Regions from separate parts of the Homo sapiens genome. Here region 2 is linked to region 1. Evidence: fine-mapped expression QTL. Tissue or cell type: prefrontal cortex. Region 1 holds a variant in brackets; the other region holds the start of a gene. All regions are shown on one strand. Distances are from middle to middle.

Region 1 (4,265 bases):
CTTTTTTCTAGCTACAATGGCAGAGTTGAGTAGTTACAACAGAAACCGTATGGCCTGCAATGCCAAAAATGTAAACTTTACTGAAAAAGTTTGTTGACCCCTGCTTTCAAGGAACAAATTGATTACAGATGCTTCCTATTGTCCAGCTTTATCCACAGGTAAATTCATTAACGTAAGATAGGCACATTTTGAATGTTTTTCTAAACTATGTATTTCTCTCAAAAAAGCCATTCTTAAATTATATTTATCTGGCAAATCTTTGGAGGGCAAAGGTCCCTGATGCTCCATATCTTTTGCTGTGCTTTCAGAATTTGTAGGATTAGTGTCAAGTTCAAGGCTGTTCCTTCTTTGCTCTCCCATTTTTAAAAGTTTGTATTATTTTTTCTTTCTGCCAGCATTGGCATATAAACATTTAAAATTATATAAAAGATAAAAATTTAAAACAGAGAGACCTTTTAACTTAAACTCACCTTCTCCCAGGATAATCAGTGTTAACCATTGCTTCTAACCTTCCAAACCTTTTTTGATATGAATATAACTGTGATTGATTAACAGTTTATATGTAGAAGTACAAATGTGTGAGAATGTCTCTTATTTTCTTGCGCTTTTCTTTTGGAAAAAGAAGGTTATAGTAAATATTTTGTTCTGCAACCTGATTTTTAACTTACTGTCCAATATAAAGGTCTTTTGTATACACTTAGAATATCTTTTTCCATATCAGTACATAGAATTCTCCTTTACTATTTTATCAGATGCATAATATTTCCTTGTGGCCTGGTTGCCTGGGATTGTTTCTTCATCTTACAGATAGAGATTATAATCCCCATAGGGTTGTTGTGAGAATTGAGTAAAAACCATGCTTAAAACCATAACTGGGGCATGGTTTGTACTGATATATTTAAGTGTCAGCTGTTATTACATCATCATTATGATTATCGTTGTGAAATCTTGAAATCAGCTTTTACATTAGGAGTCCTTGTGTATATTTTACAGTAGAGTTTAGAGTTCTATTGCAAAAAGATTTTTTCATTGTTGTTTTTGTTTTTGGATTTCAGTAGCTTTGTTTTAGAGCCGTGCTGTCTAATATAGTAGCCATCAGCCAAATGTGGTTACTGAACACTTGAAATTGGCTAGTCTGAATTGAGATATGTTAAGTACATACCAGATTTCAAAGTTATATTTCCAAAAAACTCACTAGTAGTTTTTAAGGATTCCATGTTGAAACGATATCTTGAGTAATATATGGGAATAAATGTATATTATTGAAAATAATTTTTTGAATGTGGTTCCTAGAAAATGTAAACTTACCTATCTGGTTAGCTTTATATTTCTGTTACACAGCACTGCTTTGAGGGAGAATGGATTTTTTACTTAGCCCAGTAAATCCAACTGCTGTGGCTAATTAGTTGATTAAATGCTTCTTCCTTCAGGAAGAGGGCTGTATATTAGTTCCCTACCATCCAGAAGTGAAGTCGTTTTTACACATATCCTCCTTTTCAGCCTTTAACACCTACTTCCCTTTCATTTCTTCCATCACTTAATAGCACTTCCATTTCCCCAGGGACCTGAGCTGTAAAAATTGTTTGTAGTTGACAAAAGTATAATTTTTCACTGATTATGTACTATATTTTCCTCAAAATTAAGAAATTTATACCTACTTATTATTTTGAAGCATTTGGGTATCATTAATAAAGCAAAATCAGAATGTTAGAATGATAACATCTATGAATTTACCTCTCAGAATGGATTTCCTCTGTATTCCACATTTATTATCTTTCTTATGTTACTTTTCTTCAGATAAAACAAATTAGACTAATACACAAAACAGTGTTTAACTAAACATAAGTTTTAATTTATTTTTTCTTTATAATCATGATTCATTTAACAAACGTTTCTTAAGTACCCAGTATATGTCATATGCACTGGCTAGCTGTTGAATATCCTGAGCAGATTTACGTATAGTTTTCTTCTGGAAGGACTGCAGAGAAAAAAGAGATGTAGAAACCAACATTAACACATCGGCAGAGATGTAAAGAGATGTAGAAACTAACATTAACACATAAAAGTTCTGTAGCAGACATGGGAGCAGGTACTGTTATAGCAGAGAGGGGGGAACAACCAGATTTCTAAGGAAGTAGGTAATAGGCTTAAATGATTATTGAACTTTGGCTC[ATG/G]AGGGAAGTAGGCTGAGGACAGGAAGCAGCATTTGTAAAAGTAGAAAGGGCAGAGTGATTTTAGGAAGGCTGAGAATTTTGAAACTAAAATGGAGAGTGCTTCATGGAAAGGTCGACTAAGGTTGGTATTGAAGTGATAAAATATAAAAGATCATGATGTTTACAGTATCAGGGAGGCAGTTTGGACTGCAGTAGTCAAGAACCTAGACTATTGAGAATAAATCTTGCAGATAAGAGAGTTCATCAATCATATATTTAGTATGTAATCATCTTTGGCAAGTATTTACTTAACCACTGTAATCCTCAGTTTTCTTATATGTACAATAGGAAAATTAACAGGATTGTTATGGACAACTAACTGTTTGGCAGCTTGACAGAGTGAATATGGAATTGGTGTGGGATGAGAGAAAGCTTGAGATTTGAGATGACTGAGATGAGACTGTGTTAGCAAAGAAGAAAACAAAGGAGGCTTTTAAGCAGGCAATGTTGACATTTGAAATAATCATTTTCATTCTGAAAGTGGTGTTTGGTAATTATGGAATATTTGGGGAAAAAGTCTGAACAATTTATTTAAAATAATACAGATCACTATTAGATTAGTTTCTGCTATTAGTTAACAACTATTGTGAGGATAATGGTGACATAATTAAAATAGTCAATGTTCCCTCCAGAAACATTTTATAACTCTACTCTTACCCAAATTCATTTTTGATGTTATGTCACTAATTTGTTGTGGTTTCTTCATTAATGTTTTCTGTACATTTTTGTTGAGTTTATCATTTGGGATTCCTTATTTTTTGTTGCTACTGTAATTGGTATATTCATTCTATTACTAACTATTGTATGTATATAAGAAAGCTATTACATTTGGGGGAAGCTAAGATCATTTTCCTATGAAATAAAGAGATTAGATTAATGATCTTCTAGAGCTCTGACATTCTATGATTCTCTAAATGTAGCTTTTCTTTTTTTAAAAAAAAATGTACTTACAAAGGGCATTTCTGCTCTATAATCATTAATTAAAATTCTCCTGTGTCTTATTTTGTTACTTTTATGGCCTTTAGTACTTTTTAGAGTTTAAATTTTTATTCCATCAGAATCTATTCTTTTTCCCAGGTATTATATAGTGTATTGGTTTGCTAGGATTGCTGTGACAAAGTACCACAAACTGGGTGGCTTAAACAATAGAAATTTAGTCTCATAGTTCTGGAGGCTAGAAGTCCAAAATCAAGGTTGTTCTTCAGGACTGTGAGGGATGTATTTGTTTCATGCCTCTCTCCTTGGCTTCTTTATAACTATCTTCTTTTTTCTCTTTGCATTATCTTCCCTCTATGCATGTCTTTGTGTTCAAATTTCCCCCTTTGGATGAGGACACAGATCATATTGGATTCAGTTTCACCCTAAATACCTCATATGGCTAGGTATATCTGCAATGACCCTGTTTCCAAGTCATATCACATTTTGAGGTACTGGGGGTTAGGACTTCAACATATAAATATTCAGGAGATACAACTCAACCCATAATATTTCTTCAGCATTATTCTTTTCCTCTTTACTATTCATTGTTTCAAAACGATTCATCCAATAATCCATCTTCCTCCCAGTTATTTGGATGCTGCCTTTAAAATGTATGAAATTACTATATGTATTAGGTAGGCATTTTATGGTTTACCTCTTTTTTTCTCCTCATATGCCTGGCTCTGCTTGCTAAAAACAGGATTTTATTTTGTTTTTCCCAAAAACTATTATACAAAACTAGGTGTGGATGTAGTTGTGCACATTATAGCAGAAATTATGAGAATGATCATTTCAGATTGAACAGGAATTTACTATTACAGGGGTTAGTATCATTCAAGGATGTGGCTGTGGATTTCACCCAGGAGGAGTGGCAGCAACTTGACCCTTCTCAGAGGACCCTGTACAGGGATGTGATGCTGGAGAACTACAGCCACCTGGTCTCAATGGGTAAGGATGGCTTCCCTGAATAACTCAGAGTTGTCCAATCAAGTGCCTTTCCTTACTAGTTGCTGTGATTAGATTGTTCCTGACATATGTCATGACTTTTATGACCTTCATACCTTTGCAAATGGA
Region 2 (4,000 bases), 200 kb after region 1:
AATTGGGGGAGGAAAGAGGGAAAAAGGAAGGAAAGGAGATGATTCTGAGGGCTCCAGACTTAAAGGAGAAAAGGGTCCTATCTCTTTTCTCTTAATGTTAAATGTTATTTTGTTTGTGGAATGTTCACTCTATAATATATATGTTGATTAAGTATACCATTATGCATGATTTGCAATATTGATTGACCTGTGGAGTGCCTTGAGCCTGTGTGTCCAAGACTCTGAGTGCTGAGTGAGTGGGAAGTACTAAGGAGAATTGCTTTCTTGGAAACTCCATGTAGTTCGTGGCTTTTGTGATTGAAATAGCATCAGTAAAAGTCTGGCATTGTGGAAAAACACAAATGTACGTGGACTCTGTTATTTCTGACCTTGCACTCCTCACAAGGCATGTGAAATTGGAGTCACAGATGTAGAAACCAGGCAGAAGACAGTCTGAAGAGATGATACTTGAGAATTTTCCAAATATAATAAAAGACAACAAATCACAGATCCAAGAAGCTCAGATAAACCCAAGGACTTTCTTATAAAGGAAAAGATATACTTACCATATGATCAAATAATCTCACTCTAAGGCATTTACACAAGCAAAATGAAAACCAATGTCCATACAACGATCTGTATGTGAATGTTTATAATGGTTTTATTTATATTCACTAAAATCTGGGAACAACCCAAATATCCAGCAACTGGCAAGTGAATTGTATGATATATCCATACAATGGAATTCTACTCAGTAATACAAAGGAAGAAATTATTGATACATGTAATAATATGGATGAATCTCAACTACAAAATACTAAGTGAAAAAATATCAGATCCAAAAGGATATATAGGATTCCACTTATGTGACATTCTGGAAAAGGCAAAACTAGGGACAGAACACAAATTAGTGATTGCCATGGTTTGAGTATGGGATAAGTGGACTAACTACAGAAACAAGGGAACTTTGGGGATGACAGACAATTCCATATTTGACTGTAAGTGAATGTATGTACAAAATTCAAAACTAAAAAGGATAAAACTTTATGTAAATTATACTTTAAATCAACTTTTTTTTTTAATGAGGTGATTTAAATAAATGTGTTAGGTAGCTTGATGACACGGTAAGTATGAAAGTGGTACCAGAATGGCTTGAAACTCATAAAATATTGGCAGAGTGGTTATGAGTTATTCCAAAAATCAAATAATGCATATGTTGATTCGTAAGACCCTTGTCATTTCAGAAGCTGGAAATGAAACAGTACTAATGAATTTGTGGCTTCACCACTTTTTAGCTCCACAACCAGGAGCTATATCAGGAGAGATTAGGTTAATCTCTCTAAACCTGTTTTCTTTTCTATAAAAGAGGGATCATCATACTTGCCTACAGGGTAGAGTTACCAGATAAAATACAGGACGATTGGTTAAGTGATGTGAATTTCAGGTCAACCACGAATCCTACTTTAGGACGAGTAGGTACCATATATATTTATAATTAAAAAGCGATTCGCCGTTAATCTGAAATTCAACTTTAGACGTTCTGTAATTCGTGCGTGTGTGTGTGTGCATGTGTGTGTGTGAGTGACAGAGAGAGAGAGAGAGAGAGAGAGAGAGAGAGAGAGACAGAATCAGAATCTGGCAGCCCTACAGAGAGCCCTACAGAGAGGTTATGCGAATAAATAAGACACTGGAACCGCAAGACGTTCGCCCAGAGTTTGGCATAATAAGCGCCTCAGTGGTAGCGAACGCTATTTTAACCCCAGCCTCTGATGCATTACGTCTTCCTTTATTCTTTCGCCCAATTGTTAAATGAATCAACTGTACGTGTGGCCCTTCATTCCAAGCAGGCAAAAACTCGAAGGAAGCATCCAGGTGCATTATACCAGGACCCCAATTGTTAAGCTTAGAAATTCCAAGAGCGGGCGACGTCATGACGCAAAGGCCCCGCCCCGGAAGAAGCCCTAGACGCGTAAATAAGACGCCGACCGGCGCGGCGCTAGCCTCGGGGCTTGACGGGATTGTGGCGGTCCTCTCTCCCAATTCGGAAGCTACAGCTACCTCCGGACGCTCTCAAGATGGCGACCTCTCTGGGTTCCAACACCTACAACAGGCAGAACTGGGAGGATGCGGTGAGTGTGCCTGCCGGAGGAGGATGGAAGGAGGAGGCGAAGCCGCGCACCTTGCAAGCTGGCAGGACAGGGCCTGCGGCGCGGCCGAAGGAATACCGGGGAGGAGCCAGCGCGGCGGCCTAGCTTGGCCGGAGCAGGAGGGCGGAGGGCGATCCTCCTGCGGGCTTGAAGGGAGGGGGCTTAGCCAGGGTCCCGGGACCAGCACCCTTTCCATCCCTGCCCCCTCCAGCCTATTAGAGCTGGTTTTCTTTTCTCCCGCCGCCTGCCGGAAGTGCAGACAGCGCCCCCTCCCGCGATCGGGTCGTGATGGACTTCGGGTTCCTGCCGTGCCTAGTTCCCCACCCTCGCTTCCCGCCCCCTCGCCACCCCAAGTGTCACTGAGGTGTCAGGGTCTTCGGAGGGTGGTCCTCAACCAGATTTCCCATTTTCACCAGGACTTCCCCATTCTGTGCCAGACATGTCTTGGAGAAAACCCATATATCCGAATGGTGAGTGATCGCGTGTGAAACGAGTTATTCATGTCCTGTCGATGTTGTGGTACTTGCACACTGTGAAGTGTTTCTCTTAGACAAGCAGAAAAAATGATGCTCTTTTACTAACGCGAAGTGCTGGACGACTTGCAAAGAACTGTCATGTGTATTCTCTTACGAATCCGGTAACACTCCTGTAATGTAGGGGTAATAACGATAGCTAGTATTTGTTGAGCATTTACCTAGGAAATAGGTCTGTTGACCAGAAGGTGAGAGCGTTTGTGTCTTTTCATACAATAGTAAGGAATGGAGCTGGGATTTAAGTTCACATATTCTGGCTCTAGGAATGTCAGCATGATAGGAGGAGAACCAGAACTAGAAACTAGGTTTCCTGAATCCTGGTCAAATGCCTTTTGGCCAGTGTACTTTATCTCTTTAAAGTAAGCATTCCCCCTTTGTTACAAACTAGGGTAAAATTAGAACCAGTTAACAATAATAAGGTTAGGGCTGTATTATTGTGTAGTCGTAGAGGTGTTGATATGTTAGTATGTTCACGATGTTTGAATGGTTCAAGATGTTTGAATAGTTCTGTTTAAACAGAACATTTACTATATTCCGGGCATTGGCACAGGACAAGTCTACAGTAGCTACCTTTTGACTAAACTTTGTAAAGTGGGCGGGCCACAGCTGTATCCTCTCTGATTTAGGGATTGTGGAAAGCATTAGGAATGTTAGTTCTTGGGAGTGAACTTGGGAGCCAAAAATGAACCTAAGAGTTGTGGCTGTGGAAAGACACTCACTTACCTAGCATTAGATGCATATACTCTATTTCTTTTTTCTGTAGAGACAGCATCTCGCTATGTTGCCCAGGCTAGTCTGGAACTCCTGGGCTCAAGCAATCCTTCCACCTTGGCCTCTCAAAGTGTTGGGATTACAGGCGTGAGCCACTGCCACCCAGCCCAGATCCATATACTCTTGAGATGTTATCACTTATAATATGTTGTTATAGTATGTTCCCTACCCTCTTCCCAAAAAAGGTTGGGTTTTGGGTTTTGTTGTTGCTGTTTTTCTCTCTCTAGGATGCCAGGGATTTCCAGACACATTTCTTGGGTTATGTTTAAGGAAAGAGTAGACATCTGGCTTTTTTCTTTCTGTAACTCCAGTTCTTTTCTATTTTTTTTCTATTATAGACCAAAGAAAAGTATGGGAAGGAATGCAAAGTAAGTATGTCTGTTAAAGAGTAATGATTTCTGTTTCATTTTTCTTTTCTCTACCAAATTAGCCTTCAGCTTACTAAGTTTTGAGGTCTTCCAGTAAAAATCAGTGCTATACAACTTTTTATGTATTACTGATATATTCATTGGCTGGCAACTGTTTATGTGGGAGGTAAGAAAATGAACCCTCTAATGTAGAGATTCTTAC

Alleles and levels. Alleles are on the strand shown, and positions count from the first base shown. SD is a standard deviation of normalised expression in the study named.
For the expression in prefrontal cortex of the gene that starts at base 1,978 in region 2, allele G in region 1 goes with a lower level than allele ATG (large effect, 1.4 SD a copy in BrainSeq).

What was found. PIP is the estimated chance that this variant, and not a neighbour inherited with it, causes the effect.
Region 2: it holds the start of RBM22, and the variant in region 1 is fine-mapped to the expression of RBM22 in prefrontal cortex (BrainSeq, PIP 0.95).

The regions. Positions count from the first base shown.
Region 1 is chr5:150,898,302-150,902,566 of GRCh38, reverse strand. ZNF300 (zinc finger protein 300) reads left to right here. Exons shown (of 6, transcript NM_052860.4): 4 at 4,013-4,139. It also overlaps a transcript of IRGM not described here. Among named protein-coding and RNA genes, the nearest start is that of ZNF300, 4.5 kb to the left of the region's middle. The variant ATG/G (reference allele first, on the strand shown) is at 2,173.
Region 2 is chr5:150,699,040-150,703,039 of GRCh38, reverse strand. It overlaps RBM22 (RNA binding motif protein 22), which reads left to right and starts at 1,978. Exons shown (of 11, transcript NM_018047.3): 1 at 1,978-2,108; 2 at 2,543-2,596; 3 at 3,769-3,798. The coding sequence starts at 2,055. RefSeq lists enhancers at 1,183-1,959, 1,960-2,736.